Linked DNA regions of Homo sapiens. The protein of the gene in region 5 purifies or fractionates together with the protein of the main gene of each other region. This does not show direct contact. Each region holds a gene or a part of one and is shown on either strand. Other genes may lie near its edges.

Region 1 (3,500 bases), on a different chromosome or scaffold from region 5:
GAAGATTGTAACTTCAGGCCACAGACTCTGTTTCAACCCCACCCCCCATCTCCTTCTTCCCTCCCTGTTGTGACCCAGCCCGCCTTCCTCCTGCCTTCACCTACCTGCTTGGTGATGGAGGGCTTCAGCCCCCCACCCCCTCCGCCACCGCTGCCCCCGCTGCCCCCAATGCTGCCCTCCTTGCTGAGGCTCTGTTGCCGTGGACGGGCGGGGCCATAACTTGGCTCTGGGGACTGCAATAGATTCCCGCTGGATGGCCGGGGTTTCTGGGCTGCGCTGACTGTCAACTGCTGAGACTTGCCCCTCTGCAATGGAGGCGGCTGGCCCCCGCCACCCCCACCGCTGCCCCCACCGCTCCCACCTCCAGGCCCTGAGGGGGCTGGCCTCTGGGGACCAATGGTGATCTGGGGAGGGGACAGCATGTGCTGCAGGTTGTCCTGGAGTGAAAGCTGCCGACGGGTGAAGTCAGTGCCAGAGGGTCCAAACTCATCACTGTAGCTGTGGCTATGAAGGATGGAGGCAGCAGGGGGCTTGGGGACCCCGGAAGAGAGGTCCTCACTCTTGCTATAGCCATGGAATGGGGCAAAGGTGTCCCCAGGGGGCTCTCCACCTCGGTGGTGGTGATGGTGGTGGTGGTGGTGATGGGAGGAAGGTGGGCCATGGCCACCGCCCCCTCCATGGCCGCCTGGGGGACCTGGCCCATCAGCAGCCATGTGGAAGAGAGGGTTCTGGAAGGAGAGGGGGATTCGCAGTTGCTGGGCAGGGACACCGTCTGTGGTGACACCCATCTGGCTGAGGCGCATGCCAGCCGCCGTGATGGATGAGCCACTCCCCTGGGAGAGGCGTCCGGCAGGCGCAGGCCGTAGCCCCAAGGCTGCTGTCAGCGAGGCCTGGCTTGAGTGCAGCAGGTCCCCTACGGCCGCCAGGTTCGAAACACTGCTGCTGTTGAGGCGGCCACCAGGCCCATCACCCTGTAAGTCCAGCATGGACACACTCTTGTTGACACTCAGCATCTTCTGCTCTGGCTCTGTGATGTCCGAGCTGCTCGTGCAGTATGCTGGTGAGGAACGGGCCAGGGGTGGACGGCTTACATAGAACAGGTCTTTACCACCACCAGGCGGTGGTGGGGGTGGCTTTTCCTTGGTTGGGGAGGGGAGGCGAGCCATGTCCATAGAGCTGTCAGAAGGGAAGGGGGCACACAAGCAGAAGGTAAGGTCAGGGCTCCTAGCAATTGAACCTTGCTGTGGTCTGGCACAGGCCTTGGGGTGAAAAGTGGGACCCAGAGGGAAGGGCTGAGAGCTAGCGGTGGCAGCCCTGAAGAGGGCAGGCAGGGAGGATGGGAGGGGACAGGTGAGTAAAGGGAAAGGACAGGGCCCCTCCGGGAAGGGGGTGAGGCCTAGAGGAGGGGAGATGGGGGCAGCAAGAGAAGGGATGGGGGCAGGGCTGGGCACATATGGAGGAGATGAGGTCCATGGAGGAGGAGAGGAGAGGAGTAGGGCGAAGGCCAGTGGAGTGGGAGAGGGAACAGACAGGAGAGGAGAGGAGGGCGGGGGAGGGGAGAGCCCCTCACCTGTTGAGGCCTCGAGCCATGAAGGACTGAAGGTCGATGGAGCTGGAGAGAGATGGAAAGAGGGGCGAGCACAGACAGAGAAGGAGAGAGATGTGGACAAATGAAAGGAGAGGCGGGAATGGTGGGATGGGTATGGTGTCATGGAGGAAGACACGGGCAGAGGAAAAAGCAGGGCCATCATCAAAATAATGAGCAGCAAATGAAGCACGGGCACCACCTATCAGAATGGAGGCTGGGACTCTGGAGCAGGCTGCAGGCCCTGCTAGGCTTCTGCTGTCACTGCTCTAAGTGCTGGATCATGGGGAGGTCTGTGGGGTTGTGGTCGGGGGCTGGGGGAAGTGCTTATTCACTAGCTATTACTGAGATGTTTGAACATTTTGACACATGGCTGACATGACATGCTGGCTGAACCTCAGCCTGGGGACTAGCATGGGCAGGCAGAGGGACAGCAAATCAGAGCTTGCAGCAGGGATGCTCTAGGCTTACAACTAAGCCGTGAGTTGGTGGAGCCTCAGCCCTATTCCTAGAGCTCCAAATCTCTCACTCCCTCAGGCTGTAAAGGGCTCTCAGCCTACCACTGACTGTACCTGTCTCCTTATCGTCTCCCCTGAGAACTTGGTGCTTTTTCCTCCCTTCTTTCAAGCCCTAGAGAGATGCATGTGGGGCCCAGTGAGGAGTATCTAGAATAGGAGAAGGGCTCCTAGGGCACAGGCCTGGCTGTCCCAGGGTGCTCACCTGTTGAGGTCCCGCATCATGTAGCCCTGCATCTCAGCCGATGGCCCCCGCAGTACCACAGGCTGAGGCCGGGGCCGCTCACTCTGGCGGCTTGGCTGCCTTTGGATGTTGGGGTTCCTCAGAGCTGTGCTGATGTCGTTGAGGAGCCGGGGCAGTGGACCCAGCTTCAGGAGGGCTTCCTGGAAGGGTGAGGCTGTTACCTGGGGGCTCAGTGCCCAGCTCTAAGAGGGCCTCTGAGGGTGCAGGTGGAGGGGGCCTGAGTTGGGATAGTAGTGGTGACACCTCGAGAAACAAGGGGAGAAAAAAAATCTTCAAAGGGTAGTTTCTCAGGCTCCAGGAACCTCTGGAGCCATCTGGGGATAGGGCAAAGAGGGGATCTGCTGACCTTGCTGAGCTGGGGCAGCACCTCCCAGAGTAGGGCATGCAGTGTGGAGAGCTCTCGGCCCAAGTCGATGTAACCCTCAAAGCTACTGCTGTTGGTTAGCGTGTCCAGATTGGAGATCTCATACAAAAACTGCTGCATGGAACCCCATTCCAGCTCCAGAAACTCATTCATGAAGCCCAGAAAGTCCTCCTTTGAGGTAAACCTAGCCAAGAATGCAGAAGATAAAGGTCACATACACACACACACACACACACACACACATACACACACATACACACACACACAAGGTATCATAGCCTCCCCATCTCAGGATCTCTGGGGACTCAGGAGACCCTTCTTGCCGACCCCCAGCCCTGCCACTCCCTGCCCTGCCACTCCCTGCCCTGCCCACTCCTGAAGCTTCCCTCACTTGGAAAAGTTGGCCAGGTTCTGGATGACCTTGGCAATGAGGGTGAGGGTTCGTGAGGTCTGCTCATCTGGGTACTCCTGCATAAGCCCAAAGAGACTGGGCGACATAATCGCTGGGCAGAGGAAGCGCAGGAAGAGTGAGGCGCTGATAAGCCTGTCTGCGATGTCCTCCCGGCCTCGCTCTGCGCAGCGCAGCCGCCACGAAGCAAACACCTCCTTCAGCTCCCTCGGGAACACGCTGGGGGGAAGGGTCGGGGAGACAGAGAGAGAGAGAGAGAAAGAGAGAGACCGGGACTGAGCCCCAGAGACCCTCAGCTTCCAGGGAACATGCTGAGGGGGGTGGTAGGAGGTGAGGGTGTGGAAACAGGGGTGAGAGAGACAGGGAAGGAGGGACCGCAGGAG
Region 2 (3,518 bases), on a different chromosome or scaffold from region 5:
AATTTTTCTATTTTTAGTAGAGACGGGGTTTCGCCATGTTTCCCAGGCTGGTCTCGAACTCCTGAGCTCAGGCAATCCGCCCGCCTCTGCCTCCCAAAGTACTAGGATTATAGACATGAGCCACCACACCTGGCCCAAAATGTGATTTTCTTCTTCTTTTTTTGTTTTTTTTGAGATGGAGTTTCGCTCTGTTGCCCAGGCTAGAGTGCAATGGCACAATCTCAGCTCACTGCAACCTCCGCCACTGAGGTTCAAGTGATTCTCCAGCCCTAGCCTCCCAAGTAGATGGGACTACAAGTACGTGCCACCACGTCCAGCTAATTTTTGAATTTTTAGTGTAGACAGGGTTTCGCCATGTTGGCCATGTTGGCCAGGCTGGTCTCGAACTCCTGACCTCAGCTGATCCACCTGCCTCGGCCTCCCAAAGTGCTGGGATTATAGGCATGAGCTACTGCGCCTGGCCCAAAATGTGATTTTTAATACCAAAGAGCTGTATGAATGCTAAATGCGTTGTGTATTTCACCTTTGGTAAACTTTTTTTTTTTTTTTTTTGGAGACGAAGTCTCGCTCGTCCCCCAGGCTGGAGTGCAATGGTGCGATCTCAGCTCACTGCAACCTCCATCTCCCAGGTTCAAGTGATTCTCCTGCCTCAGCCTCCTGTGTAGCTGGGATTACAGGTGACTGCCACCACACCTGACTAATTTTTCTATTTTTAGAGAGACAAGGTTTCATCATGTTGGCCAGACTGCTCTTGAACTCCTGACCTCAGGTGATCCAACTGCCTTGGCCTCCCAAGGTGCTGGGATTATAGGCGTGAGCCACCATGCCTGGCCAGGCCACCTTTGGTAAACTTCTACAAGTGATTCTAATTATGAAGTGCTTTGCAAAATCAGGGTATTTTTAATCCTGAAAAGTTTTAAGAAACCCAAAGAGCTTGATACATCCATATGATACCCACGTACACCCATGCAATATCTTCATTTTAAAAATGTTTATTTAAAATTTTATTTTAAAAATTTCAGGACAGGCACAGTGGCTTACACCTATAATCCTAGCAATTTGGGAGGCTGAGGCAGGAGGATGACTTGAGCCCACGAGTTTGAGATCACCCTGGGCAATAGAGGGAGTCTTCATCTCTACAAAAAAATTTAAAAAGTAGGCCAGGCATGCTGGCTTACGCCTGTAATCCTAGCAATTTGGGAGGCCAAGGCAGGCAGATTGCCTGAGCTCAGGAGTTCGAGACCAGCCTGGGCAACACGGTGAAACCCTGTCTCTACTAAAATACGAAAAATTAGCCGGGCATGGCAGCCTGCACCTGTAGTCCCAGCTACTCTGGAGGCTGAGGTAAAAGAATTGTTTGAACCCGGGAGGCAGAGGTTGCAGTGAGCCAAGATCATGTCACTGCACTCCAGCCTGGGGGACAGAGTGAGACTCTGTCTCCAAAAAAAAAAAAAAAATCAAAAAAGTAGCCAGGTGTGGTGGTGTGTGCTGTGGTTCCAGCTACCCAGAAGCCTGAGGTGGGAGGATTGTTTGAGACGAGGAGGTTGAGTCTAAAGTGGGCCCAGATCATGCCACTGCACTCTAGCCTGGGCAACAGAGTGAGACTCTGTCTCAAAAAATAAATAAATAAATAAATAAATAAAATTTCAAGACTACAGAAAAGTTTTTTTTAAAAAACATACTTTATTATTTTGGAAATGGAGTCTCCCTCTGTCACCCAGACTGGAGTGTAGTGGTGCCATCTTGGCTCACAGCAACCTCCACCTTCTAGGTTGTGGAAAGTAAAAAAGTTTCTCTTTAAAGTTTTTATTAAATAATAAATCACAAGTGTTAGAAATAATATTTTTAATTAACTTTTTTTAAGCCTCTTTGCTTTGTGTTAGTAACTCTTTTTTAAACCATATCTTATGTAGTTGTTAGATATAAGGAAATAAGTACCTTCTGTGTCCTTGTACGTTAACCAAGATATTTGGTCTCGACGTGCTCAAGCATGTCCCAGCTCACAGCTTATGCCCTTTCCTTATTTGGAAATGTTATTACTTCTCCAAGTCTTTTGGCAAGCAACTTCCTCTTTTCCTTTGTTCTCCATTGCCTTTACCTATTTAAGAAAGTTTTTTAAGTTGTTAGCCAATTGGGTTTAGCTTAGACTGTGAGGTCCAGCTCCAACCAATGGAGACAGGACACAGCAGTAAGGACCCAATGCATAAGGGATAAATATTCCTGCCTTTCTTTGTTCATTGTGCTCTCCTGGCAGGATTGCTGATGGGCAGCACCCTTTCTACAGAAAGTAAAATTGCCTTGCTGAGAAAACTTTTTGTCTGAATGCTAATTTTTCCTTGCGACACCAAGAAACAAGCATTTTGATTCTAACACAGGTTCAAGTGATTCTCCTGCCTCAGCCTCCCAAAGAGCAGGGATAACAGGCACGCACTACAATATCCAGCTAATTTTTTTTTGTTTGTTTTTTGTTTTTTGTATTTTTAGTAGCGATGAGGTTTTGCTATGTTGGCCAGGCTGGTCTTGAATTCCTGACTTTGGGTGATCCACCCACCTCGGCCTCCCAAAGTGCTGGGATTACAGGCAAGAGAAGTTTTTCTTAAAATAGTACAACAGATTTTAGGCTCTTCTGTATCTGCCCACCGAGCTACTCTGTTCCTGGCTTAGAGAACCAGGAGAAGGGGAAGGGGAATCACCTGCCACATGCTGGAGGTTGGAGCCTGTGGCACCATGGCTTGCCTCACTGCAGTTGGTGGTGGCAACAGAGGCTGCAGTGTGGCCAGAGTGGCTTTTCTGGCTTTGCCCGCCCAGCCACTCTGAGAAAGGCTGGAGGAGAAAGTGAAGGAGGAGTCACCTGTGGTGAGGTGGAGTTTGGAGCTTGCAGATGGCACGGCTCTGTGGCTCACCTCCTACAGTTGTGGCGGTGACAGCGAGGGAGACTTCAGCCTGACTGGAGTAGAAGGGTGCTCGTGAAGGCTAGAGTATTGCCTCCAAGATGCAGCAGTGGATACTCAGGTTTCAGGAGACTCCACTGTCCATGGCGAATCCATGGTCTGCCAGCGCAGTTTTAGAGAGAGAATGTGCCACCGCAGGTGTCATCCTCATGTGCACCCTGGCAGGTAGCCATCTGAAGATTTCAAGGACAACCTGGCAGGGGAGCAGACCAGCGACACTTCCTCTGAACAGGTTCTTGCTGTTCACTTGACAGACTCAGCAACTCAGGCAAGTGTTCACATGGAAGATATCCTGGAAGGATACCAAGCCAGTGAAAGCTCAGATGAAAATGCCCCATGGCTTTGGAAGGCCAATGAATGTGCCAAGGAAAAAGGTGCCATGGAGGATCCTCTGGAAGACCTCGCCAATGAAATTTCAGATTAGGACACCCCACTGGATTTGAAGGCCAAAGAACGTGCCAAGGAAAAAGTTCCCATGGAGGATACCCTGGTGGAAGACCTTGGAAACGAAAGCTCAGATAAGGATGCCTCACTGGACTTGAAGGTTGACAAACGCATGAAAGAAAA
Region 3 (3,518 bases), on a different chromosome or scaffold from region 5:
GGTAAGAATTGGAAAAAACAATTTTGTACAGTGGCTGCATAAATGTGAACACAGTTTCATTGTTCCATTATGCCTAGATTCAATCACCTTGTCCATTTCTTATACTGCAAACTTTTAGAGTTTTCAAATAATTAACTTTTACCTAGTATAAATGATTCACAATGGATTAGAGGATCAACAAAATGTTTATCATACAGCTTGACTACTGCTAAACTTCCAGTCATAGGAAAACCAAGGACATATGCAGAGTATATGGTAACCTTAATTTCTTTAGAGTATCATTTCTCAAATTGTTCCATGAAATAGCAATTACTGTTAGGTGGGAAAATAAACTTATGTGATCAAATGTGTTTGGGAAACACAGTAGTAATGCTGAAAACAGGTTTTCATATGTAGAACTTCTCAGTCTTTAATGAGCTAACATACTTCCTTTTTTAATTTTATTTTTATTTATTTATTTATTTTTTTTTTGAGACAGTCTCACTCTGTTGCCCAGTTGCCCAGGCTGGAGTGCAGTGGCATGATCTCGGCTCACTGCAAGCCCTGCCTCCCGGGTTCACGCCATTCTCCTGCCTCAGCCTCCCGAGTAGCTGGGGCTACAGGCGCCTGCCACCACACCCGGCTAATTTTTTGTATTTTTAGTAGAGACAGGGTTTCACCATGTTAGACAGGATGGTCTTGATCTCCTGACCTCGTGATCCACCCACCTTGGCCTCCCAAAGTGCTGGGATTACAGGTGTGAAGCACTGCGCCAGGCCTTTACTTCCTACGTTTTGAGTTAGGATATTCTTCATCTTTAATTATATTCATATATATTAACATGTATACAATTTGGGAAAAGCAGCTTTATAGTAAAGTTATGTTGTAAATCAGCATTTATAGCATTGAATATAAATCTCTTCATTTTATTTACCCCATTTCATTTTATCAATATTAAGAGGAGACAAACATTCACTCTCCTTTGAATTGTTTTTAAACATATGAAAGACTGCTATTCAATTCTTGGTCCTCTTTTTTTTTCTTTCTTTCTTTTTTTTTGAGGCAAGATCTCATTCTGTCACCCAGGCTGCAATGCACTGGTGTGACCTTGGCTCACTGCAGCCTCGACTTCCTGGGCTTAGGTGATCCTCCCACCTCAGCCTCCAGAGTAGCTGGGACTACAGTCGGGCACCACCATGCCTGGCTAATTTTTAAAATTTTTTTGTAGAGTCGGGGTTTTGCCATGTTGCCAGGTTGGTCTTGAACTCCTGGGTTCAAGCTGTCTGCCCACCTAGGCCTCCCAAAGTGCTGGGATTACACACATGAGGCATGAGGCACCATGCCAGGCATGGTGGGGAGGTGGAGAGGTTGAAAGAAAGGATTATCTGTGAGAATGTGACCTTTAAAAGGGGTCCCTGCTTGAAAGACACTGGTATTCATAAACATTTATTTTTGAAATAAATTTTCTGCCTTTGAATCTTATCACTGGTTTAATAGCAATTTTTATTATTCTGTTCTGAATATATTGTTTAATATTTTGATAACAAGTAATTTTTTTTATTTTTATTTTTTTTTTTATTTTTTTTTTTGAGACGGAGTCTCGCTCTGTCGCCCAGGCTGGAGTGCAGTGGCGGGATCTCGGCTCACTGCAAGCTCCGCCTCCCGGGTTCACGCCATTCTCCTGCCTCAGCCTCCCAAGTAGCTGGGACTACAGGCGCCCGCCACTACGCCCGGCTAATTTTTTGTATTTTTAGTAGAGACGGGGTTTCACCGTTTTAGCCAGGATGGTCTCGATCTCCTGACCTCGTGATCTGCCCGCCTCGGCCTCCCAAAGTGCTGGGATTACAGGCGTGAGCCACCGCGCCCGGCGATAACAAGTAATTTTAAGAGTAAAACAAAAATGGTGATTTTTACTATGCATTATATAGTTTATGACAGCAGAATTGTATATATTACAGTATATATCACATAATTTTTAAATTTTTTTAAGAGAGCCAAACTATTTATTCCTCATTTAGTCAATACAAGCACTCAGACCAAAGGAAATATGCTGCTTAATAGCCCACATACAACTCCTTGAAATAAACAAATATAAATATTAGTACTAGGCCATAAGAATGGTTGATCTTTGTATAATTTTATCATTTACCTGCTTTTTATTGAAAGCATGGATATGTTTGTGTGTATATGCACATTTGTGTTTTAACTAAGTGAAACGAAAAAGGAAGATCTAGATTTTCACATCCATTTTCAAAATACAAGCTATATTCAGAAGCCAAAGCTAATACAAAATTCAGAAAAAGTATTCAAAAACATAGCAACACTTACTGAACTATCAAGGGTTTATCAGCAAAAATGAATGGTTTTGCTAATACAGCAGATATTGCATGATGCTTTGCTCTAGATTTTAATACCAGTCCTCTGTCACCAGGTACCTGGTTTTCTTTCAACTCTTCAATTTCCCATCTTCCTAAAAAATAAAGCAAAGCAAATTAAACTAAAACAGAAAACATTGACCTAAGAATTATTTATCAGCAGTTGTGAACAATAATTTTTATCCAGGAAGCCTGACTTGGGAAAAATAAAAATTTTAAATCAGGAAATATCTTCAACTATATATGTATGCCTGCTCATTTATCTTTTTTTTTCTATCAAAGAATGATTTCATCTTCTTAACTAAAGTTGTGAAAACTAATAGCAAACACTATAGTGTCTAATTAAGTCACTCTTAAAGCTGAATTAGTTTGGTTTTTCTATGAAAGAGTTTTTAATCAATGAAATTATAAAATGTGGTTTGTCTCAATAGGGTATGTCAATATTGTATTTTCAAAATGACATATTTGAAACTGCATATGACACATAACACAAAATGAGTAGTCTATTTATTTTGAAATGCACAATACTCATCAGCTACTTTTCTTACTTGCAGCAGTTATTGTAAAGATTTAAAGTTCATTTTGAAAACTGCATGCTTAATTCACACAAACCCTTCTCAGGGTACACTAATCAGCTCTCAGAACTTTTGGCCAGGAAGGCAGCAAAGCACTGCATAAGTGCTAAGCTACAACAAGGCAAAACTGAGTTAGGCCTTCTCTGTGTTACAATTTTCCATGTTAAGATCAGGACATTCCTGAAATTAGATTATGGGCCACATACAATGCAAAGCTAGGTGGGCTACCTATAGCCCAAAAGTTATATGTTAGACTTTACTCCTTTACTGGTTTTAGAATAGAAAATCAACTTATATTTGTTTGTGTAAAATCTTCTGTTTTGAAAATGATAGGTATTGCCTATTCCAAGAAAATTCAATTCGACAAAACTGGCTATTTTCCAGTATTGTGTCAACTCAAAATATTCATTAATGAGCACTTTTGAATCACAAATGCTCTTATATCATTTTTTTTCTTTCTAAGAAAAATAATGCAAGAACCAGACACAGTCTTATAAATCAAAGAGGGGTAATTTTTGGTCTATAATTGTACATACATTTTTAGACTTTTAAAAATGTGTGTGTTTTTATTAAGTTTCCAAGTTTCTTT
Region 4 (4,291 bases), on a different chromosome or scaffold from region 5:
TGGTGAGATCACACCCCCCTGCAGCACTGTGAAGAAGGGGAGGCCGCGAGCTGGGTGGGCACCCACTCCCTGCATCTAGGATATGTATGCAAATTAATATATGCAAATTAAGTATCCTAAACGACCCACCCAAAGATTGGGACGCCTGGGACCCTTCCCCCAGGAGGTGAAATATCTTTAATCCCCTCCTACCCCTCTCCCTCCCTATCTTTCTGAGCCTCCCCCATCCAGACTGGGTGCAGGGGTGCAGAGCTTTCCTCTCCAGCAGGGCTCTAAGCCTAAGCCGGGGGCAATGGGGAGGAGGGGTGTCTGAGGAGCACTCCCTCTCCCTGGGAGCTCTGCAGAGGAAGAGGGTCTCTGGCAATCAGCATCCTCTACCTCCACCTCTCCAGCGGGCGACCCCTCAGAGAAGGTCTCCCAGTGAGTCTGGAATACGTGCCGAGTGCCTGGAGTGCTATTGTGTGTATGTGAGAGCACATTGGTGAGGCTGCCCATGCATGCCACTGTGGACAAAGACAGATGCGATCGTGTGTGTGTGGGGACTGCGTATATGTTTTTGTCAGTGTGTGTGACCACGAGTCAGCTGGGTATGTGTGCTTGTGGGTATCAGGTGCATGGCTGTGCGTACATGTGTGCGTAAGAGTCGGTGCATTTGTGTTTCAGCGCGGCTAAGGCCCTGACTGAGATGCTGTGTGTGCGGGGGTGGGTGTGACTGAATGCGGGCACGGGTGTCCGTCTGTTTATACGTGTGTTTGCGTGTTTGGGTGTGCAGGTGGCTCTGCGTAAGCGTCTGTGTGCAGGGGGTCGGCACATGGGGGAGGATGCCCATGGTTGGGTAACCGCAGGTCCGCTTGACCCTCTGCCACCTAGGACTGTGTCTATACGGCGTCTGGGCTACAGTGTGTTTGAGTTGCCGTGTGCGTTTCCGTTGCGGGGTGTGGGTTGCCACGGGGCAACTGCATTTTTCTGCGTCTTCATGGCCAGGGGTACAGGGGGCGTCGGGCTTTTCCTGGGGGTTTTTCTGTGTGCGTGTGTAATTATGTGCTTAGTTCACATCTTCATAGTGCGCCTTTGTGTTTTCCTGGGTATCTAACCATTGCACGTGTGCCCGGGACTTCAGCGATAAGTGTTTCGGTGTTCCTGCGTGCGGATTTGTGCTCTCCGGGGAGGTCTGCGGCCCAGGTTCGATTCCTGCGACTTGTCCTAGGCAGGCCTGTATGTGCGCGGCGGCCGCGTGCTGTACAGTGTGAGGGAACGTGTACCAAACGCTCGCGGGATACCTGTGCCCGTCTAGCCAAGAGTGCACCCGTGTGCGCGAGCGGGCTTCTGGGACGCCGCCGTGGTCGGGGGCGGCCCTGCGAGGGGAGGGGGTCACAGGGACTGGCCGGCGCCGGCCCCGTGCGCACGGAGGCGGGGGCGGGGGGCGGGGGCCGCGAGGGGGGAGGCGGTACGAAAAGGGCGGCGCGCGCGGCGGCGGCGGCAGCTCCCCGGCAGCGGCGGTGGAGAGCGCAGCGCGCAGCCCGGTGCAGCCCTGGCTTTCCCCTCGCTGCGCGCCCGCGCCCCCTTTCGCGTCCGCAACCAGAAGCCCAGTGCGGCGCCAGGAGCCGGACCCGCGCCCGCACCGCTCCCGGGACCGCGACCCCGGCCGCCCAGAGATGACCGCGACCGAAGCCCTCCTGCGCGTCCTCTTGCTCCTGCTGGCTTTCGGCCACAGCACCTATGGTGAGTTCCCCGGCGGCCCGGCTCGCGCCCCCTCTGGGGAAGCCTGCGACTCCCCGCCGGCCGCCCGGTGCCCCGCACGCCCCGTCTCGTGAGCCCCAACTCCGCCCGTCCCGCCTAGCCCTAAGCCCCGCGCTGTGCCTGTCTCGCCCTACCCACCACGCTCGCATGCCAAGGCCCGTCCCAGGGGTCCCAGGGCGCAGGGGATGTGTGAGACCCCCAGCCCCTTCCCGCCCTGCAGAAGTGGCGCCAGAGGGGTGTCGGTGCGCTGAGCAAGGAGGTATGGAAAAATGGGGTGCTGTTGTGGAGTCTTCTATGAAAATACTCTGGGGTGCAACTTTGGGGTGTCCCTGTGTGAGCGTTCTGGAACAGGTCTCGGGGCGGGAGTGGGGGACGACTTTGCCGTCTTAGCCCCCAATTCCCAGAGAAGCCCAGCCTGAGCCCTTCCTGCGTGGCGCGTTTCTGTAGGTGAGGGGCTGCGACACTTCTGTCTGCAGCGGCCATCTGTCTCTGACAGCGAGAGAGTTGCCCCCTTCCTGCAGCGCCCCCCCACTCATTGCACCAGTGGTTGTAAGGGGGCTGTCTAGAAAGCTGGGGAGCTGGTTGAGTAAATGCACACAGTAGGTGCCTGTTAAAGTGTCAGAATCTCTAAGCAGTGTTGTTGCAACCTCAGCCCGCTAAGCAAAACCCTGTGTCGTCATCGTTTTTTTAATGCGAAGAGTCTGGGGTAGGGGAAAGAGGGAAGATTTGACCTGGGTGCCCGGCTTAATAGGGATGAACCTTAAAAAGAATGCAGACGCCTTACTGGGGCGCCCACCAGGTGAACCTGTCTGGGCTTTCCCGGAGTTGAACACCTCAAAATCTGCTCCTCTTTTCAGCTCAGGTTGCAAAAGTGACGGTCAGGCTGCATGCCCAGGGCTCAACATATTTCCCTCCACGGTCCCCGTCCCCGCTGTTAGGAGGACTTGAGGTGTCGTATTTGCTTTTGGGAGTCCGAGGAGAAGGTGTTTCTCCTGCTCCTAAGAACGAGGGAGAGTGTACTGTGGTCATTTCATTGCTGGGAACGTGGCAGAGATGTTTTTCCTGAGTGCACTGAGCCCCATCCATGCTCGGATAGGAAGTGCCTACTGTGTGCCAGGCTGGTAGGACCCAAGAGGGCTGTTGGTGCCCTCGAGGGCAGTGGTGGGCTGTGTGGGCGAAGACAGCCTTTGCCTTGGCCTGGGGCCTGGTGGGGTGAATTGTATAACCTTTCTTGTACCTCAGGGGCTGAATGCTTCCCGGCCTGCAACCCCCAAAATGGATTCTGCGAGGATGACAATGTTTGCAGGTAATAGAGTGGCTCCTCAGAGGCAGCTTGTAGGGGCCACGCAGAAGCCTGGGGAGTCGTGAAGTCAGGCAGAAAAAAATAGGGGGCTTGGCCACTACGCTGCAGCAAACAGCTTCCGGGCCCCTGCAGAAAACTGGTGGGGCGAGCTGGGGAGATGGGGGGGGCGGGGGGGGGGCAGCCACAGCTCCTGTCTGCGTTCTCAGAGGTGGGGGGGCAGGTGGGACCACTGCAGGCCACTGCGGCAAAACGCAGCACTCCCCCGGGATCTCGGGGCCCCTCCAAGTCGGCCCCCTCAGCTTGGCATGTTTTCTCTTTAAGTTTTCCCATTCAGGTGGCTGGTGTTTACTTCCCAGGACCACCGGCTGCCACTGTGCAAAGACCCCCAAGGGTCCTTGGTTCCACAGAAAGTAGCCTGAGCTGCCTCTCTACCCCTGCCCTCTTCATATGTCCCCACCTTTCTCCCCCACCCATTGCAGGTGCCAGCCTGGCTGGCAGGGTCCCCTTTGTGACCAGTGCGTGACCTCTCCCGGCTGCCTTCACGGACTCTGTGGAGAACCCGGGCAGTGCATTTGCACCGACGGCTGGGACGGGGAGCTCTGTGATAGAGGTTGGCACTCGCCTTTGTTCACCTCAGCTCTGCGTCCTTACCTGCCTGCCCTAGCCCCTACCACCTCCTCCCAGTCTCCTGTTGCTGGTGTTCCTCACTTCCTCATTCCTGCACACTCCGTGCCCTGTATTCTAAAGATCTGTTTATAAATTTCCTGTGGGTACCGAATGCCTCCTCAGAGGTAGGGACTTTATTTTGCTCTTCTCTGCGCCATCAGCACCCAGCACCTAGAGGGAACATGGCGTGGGGGCCAGGGAGCTGCCTGTTGAATAAAGAGTCACAAAATACACATACAGCTGGGCCGGTGGGACCACAGACCCCAGGCTGCCTGTCCAGGTCATGGAAGCCCAGTGATGGACAGGGCTCTGGGGATCTCAGAGCTAAGACTCCCTAGAAAAGCACACGCAAGACTGTAAAGAGGCTGCAAACAAACAAACGGGGTGGGGGGTGGCCAGCACTGCTCAGTGGTTGAGGGGCAGGTGCTGAGTCAGGGCCAGGAGGACAGGGCTGGGGGGCCTGGACTGAGTGGGTCAGGTGTAGGGGGAGGCTGCAGTTGGGAAAAGCTGAGAAAGGGTTAAAGTGAAGATGGGTGTTATCTGTTGATTTCATTAATTTATGCAATCTTTGCCTCCATTACC
Region 5 (4,094 bases):
ATTTACTTTTACACTTTAAATGCAATTAAATTGCAATGAAACTAACCAACAATTAGAATACAAAGAAAATTTACATTTATTATACCGCAAAAAAACTCATACATTTATAAATACCAGTAACATGCATAGAATTGGAATAAGATGGTTACTTTCTAATAAAAGGAGACACCTCCAATGGGCAAAGCAGTAAAAAAGGACTTTCCACAAATTAAACGAGACTAGCCTCAGTAGATCCTTATTAACACTTAAGTGAATTCAAAGCTCTTCCTGAAACTGGGATTTGCCTCGCTAACCCTCTCTGCACCCTGAGCAACGAAGTTGGGGATAATTGGCTTCAGGAACTTGAACTCATTTGTCCCGGAGCCTCCAGTCAGACACACCTCGTACTGGTAGCTCTGGGACAGGGTCCCGGTGCCGCTCACGTCCACCATCTGCCCTGGAAAGGGGCCCTCGGGCACCGAGCAGCGACCCACCGAGGCCGCCCTGCTCCTCCTGCACAGCCGCACCGCCACGAACAGGAGCACCGAGAAGAGGAAGAGCGAAGACACCGAGGCCAACGCCACCACCAGGTAGACGGTGAGCAAGTCGGCCTGGGCCTGGGCCGGTGCCGCCTCCGGGAGCAGCAGGTAGGGCTGGGAGAAGCCGTCCACCAGGAGCACGTGCAGCGTGGCGGTGGCCGAGCGCGGAGGCTCGCCATTGTCCTTGACCAGCACCACCAGCCTCTGCTTGGCAGCGTCGCGCTCCCTCAGCAGCCTGGCGGTGCGCACCTCGCCATTGTGCGCCCACACGCCGAACAGCCCGGGCTCCGTGGCCTTGAGCAGCTGGTACGACAGCCAGGCGTTCTGGCCCGAGTCGCCGTCCACCGCCACCACCTTGGTCACCAGGTAGCCCGGCTCGGCCGCCCGGGGCACCAGCTCGGTGCAGGGCGCGGAGCCGTTCTGCAGCGGGTACAGCACGAAGGGCGAGTTGTCGTTGGCGTCCAGCACCAGCACGCGCACCAGCGCCTCGCTGCTCAACGCCGGGGAGCCGCGGTCTGCGGCGCCCACGCGGAACTCGAACGCCTGCAGGGCCTCGTAGTCCAGCGACTGGAGAGCGAACAGGTGGCCGTTGTCCGCGTTGATGGAGACCAGGGAGGCGAGGGGCAGGTGCGGGTCCTGGGGCGGCAGCAGCGAGTAGGTGACCTGGGCGTTGGTGCCCGAGTCTCTGTCTGTGGCGCTGACGCTGCCGATGTGCAGGGCGGGGCTGTTGTTCTCGCGGACGAACAGGGTGTAGGAGGTTTGGGTGAAGGCGGGGGCGTTGTCATTGACGTCGGAGACCAGCACGGTTATGTTGTGCTCGGTTTTCAGCCTGGGTGTCCCGAAGTCGGTGACGGTGATGGTGATGTTGTATTCGGATCTGGTCTCCCGGTCCAGGGCCGTGCTTATCACCAGAGTGTAAAAGTTCTCAACAGAAGGTTTCAAGAAAAAAGGAAGATCATCTTGGATGGAGCACACCATCCTTCCGTTGTCTCCGGAGTCAGGATCTGAAACGCTGAATACAGCAATGAGGGTGTCCTGCAAGTTTTCTGGGATCTGATTGATAAGTGTCGACATAGTTAGTTCCGGAGGATTGTCATTCAAATCCATCACTTGGACAAATACCACACAAGTTCCAGATAGGCCCCCACCATCTGTCGCCTGAATATTTACTGTGTATGTCTGGATGGATTCGAAATCCAGTTTCTGTCTTAAAAGCAGTTCTCCCGATTTTGCACTTAATCGAAACGTTTTGCGAATGTCTTCAGATGCTTGGGAAAATGCATAAGATATTTCTCCATTAGTTCCAATGTCTAAATCCCTGGCAGAGACGATGGCAACCTGGGATCCAACGGGGCTGTCCTCCGGGATCTGCACCTCATAGAGCAGCTTTGCAAACTCTGGGACGTTGTCATTGATGTCCACAACTTCAATCCGTACCAGGGCCGTGCCGGACCTGGGTGGACTCCCGCCATCTAGCGCTGTGAGGGTTAACCTGATCTCAGGCTGCTCCTCGCGATCCAGGGCTCTGTTCAGCACCAGCTGTGGTAATATTATGCCATCGAGACTGTCTTGTAAATTAAGATGAAAGTGGAAATTGGGACTGATTGTGTAATTTTGGAGACTGTTGGTTCCTACATCCAAGTCCTGGGCACGTTCTATTAAGAAAGTAGTTCCAGGAGTGATACTTTCTGGAATTTTCAAAAGTATTTCTTTGTCTAGGAAAACTGGGGAATGATCATTTACGTCCCTAATCCGTAGCTCCGCCTGAAAAAACTGCAAGGGATTTTCTAGTAACACCTGGAAAGGTAGGACACAGGGCTCTGTGGGGCCGCACAGCTCCTCCCGGTCCAATTTCTCATTTAACAACAAATCCCCGGTCTGCCTATCGAACTGCAAATGCATTTTTTTTCCTTTGGAAACGACCCTGGCCCCCCTCACAGCAAGTTCTCCTATCTCCAGCCCCAGGTCTTTTAACAAATTGGCCACAAAGGAGCCACTCTCCGTTTCCTCGGCCACTGAATAGTGCCTAGGCTGGCAACTAGCCTGAGCTATGCCCAGCAAAACAAAGAATATCAGGACTTGCCTTTGTTTCGGAACGCGCTCCTTCCCCTCTCCGGCCTCCATTGCTTTCTGGTCTCTCACCAAACGTGCTCCAGCTCTGGCTCACGTTGTCGCTAACTCTATCTCCCCGTATCTCGCTGATACTGGGATGAGTGGACAATCCTAGGGCCCGGATTTCCCGGAGCGACCGCCTTAGAAAGCCTCCTCTTCCTGCTTGCTGCTTCTTTAGCTGAGTATCTGGGTAAGGGAGCGTCGGCTGGGTGCTTTGTTTCTGCTACTTCTAAGGCTGCAGCGCCACCCCGCGTCTCTTCCGAGTATTTATTTTCTCCTAAACTTTAAGAAAATCCCAGTGCTTTCTTTCAGGCTGATGGCAATCGAAATTGAGTATTTTCAAGTAGTGTCTCTCAGTGTACCGAAGTCTTATTGGCGTTTCGAAAGGCTCTTCATTGCACCCATAGAGACAGGGCAAGAATAAATAAATCTTCACTTCCCTCACAAATCCAAGCTTTTTTTTTTTTTCAAACTGGAAAAAATAAATTTCAGAACCTGGAAGGGAGTGATCTCAGTCCTAGCATGCTTCGGAAAGAAGGCTTAGACTAAGAAAGTTCTATTTTTATTCAGAGTTTGGGCATGTGTGCAACTCAGTGGTGGTTAGATTACCATCATCACACTCAAACCCAGCTGAAAAACAGAGACCCAGGAAAAGCACAGAATCCAAATAAGAGTATTTTAATGGGCACTGAAATAGTCTCCTTACTCATATTTCTTTCTTTGCACTGCTCCCACTTCACATTTTCCTGAACTTTGATGTGTCTGAGCCTCATGAAACTCTCCAAGAGCAGCCAGATATTTCCTTATTGTAAATGTATCAATATTATTTTCCTTTCTAATGCCTAGGAGAACTTTCAACATAACCTCAATTCAATTACCACATCTAGCAAAGAGCAATTTCATAATATTAAATAGCCAGTAAATATTCCAGTTTCCCCAATTATCTTTAAAAATGTCTTTTCAGTGATGGTTTCTTCAATCTGCTTCCAAACAGGGTATATATGTCATTGTTTGTTGTTAGGTTTTTTAATTTTGTCTTTTTGTTTCTTTTTTAATGTTAATATAAAGAAGTTATCAAGCCACAGAATGACATGAAGGAAACTTAAATGCATATTTCTCAGTGAAAGAATCCAGTCTGAAAAGGCAATGATACTGTATAATTCAAATTACATGATACTCTGAAAAAGGCCAAATTATAGAGACATTTAAAAGACAAGTGATAGCTAGGAAGAAGAGGGAGGGGGATGAAGAGGTTAAACATGGGGTACTTTACGATACTACAATGGTAGATACATGACATTATGCCGTTGTCAAAATCCACAGAACTATACAACACAAAGAGTGAACACTAAACTATGAAATTTAGTTAATAATTTACCAGTATTGGCTCATCAATTGTAACAAATGTACCACAGTAATGCAAGATTTTGATAACAGGGAAACTTTGAGTGGGAGAAAATCGGT

Evidence for each region.
Region 1: the proteins of PCDHB2 (region 5) and SYNGAP1 purify together in Homo sapiens (co-immunoprecipitation; one large-scale study listed by IntAct). This does not show direct contact.
Region 2: the proteins of PCDHB2 (region 5) and DKKL1 purify together in Homo sapiens (co-immunoprecipitation; one large-scale study listed by IntAct). This does not show direct contact.
Region 3: the proteins of PCDHB2 (region 5) and CLGN purify together in Homo sapiens (co-immunoprecipitation; one large-scale study listed by IntAct). This does not show direct contact.
Region 4: the proteins of PCDHB2 (region 5) and DLK1 purify together in Homo sapiens (co-immunoprecipitation; one large-scale study listed by IntAct). This does not show direct contact.

What each region holds. Positions count from the first base shown.
Region 1 is NC_000006.12:33,440,565-33,444,064, reverse strand, and holds part of SYNGAP1 (ras/Rap GTPase-activating protein SynGAP), read right to left. Parts: intron 3,337-3,500; coding exon 3,100-3,336; intron 2,893-3,099; coding exon 2,691-2,892; intron 2,485-2,690; coding exon 2,306-2,484; intron 1,613-2,305; coding exon 1,571-1,612; intron 1,177-1,570; coding exon 105-1,176; intron 1-104. UniProt on the Homo sapiens protein: Major constituent of the PSD essential for postsynaptic signaling. Inhibitory regulator of the Ras-cAMP pathway.
Region 2 is NC_000019.10:49,366,873-49,370,390, forward strand, and holds part of DKKL1 (dickkopf-like protein 1 isoform 1 precursor), read left to right. Parts: intron 1-1,832; exon of another isoform or gene 1,833-3,518. UniProt on the Homo sapiens protein: Involved in fertilization by facilitating sperm penetration of the zona pellucida. May promote spermatocyte apoptosis, thereby limiting sperm production. In adults, may reduce testosterone synthesis in Leydig cells.
Region 3 is NC_000004.12:140,403,635-140,407,152, forward strand, and holds part of CLGN (calmegin precursor), read right to left. Parts: intron 2,450-3,518; coding exon 2,308-2,449; intron 1-2,307. UniProt on the Homo sapiens protein: Functions during spermatogenesis as a chaperone for a range of client proteins that are important for sperm adhesion onto the egg zona pellucida and for subsequent penetration of the zona pellucida.
Region 4 is NC_000014.9:100,725,414-100,729,704, forward strand, and holds the start of DLK1 (protein delta homolog 1 isoform 1 preproprotein), read left to right. Parts: upstream 1-1,478; 5' UTR 1,479-1,655; coding exon 1,656-1,722; intron 1,723-2,982; coding exon 2,983-3,046; intron 3,047-3,522; coding exon 3,523-3,653; intron 3,654-4,291. UniProt on the Homo sapiens protein: May have a role in neuroendocrine differentiation.
Region 5 is NC_000005.10:141,093,339-141,097,432, reverse strand, and holds the start of PCDHB2 (protocadherin beta-2 precursor), read right to left. Parts: upstream 2,819-4,094; 5' UTR 2,643-2,818; coding exon 246-2,642; 3' UTR 1-245. UniProt on the Homo sapiens protein: Potential calcium-dependent cell-adhesion protein. May be involved in the establishment and maintenance of specific neuronal connections in the brain.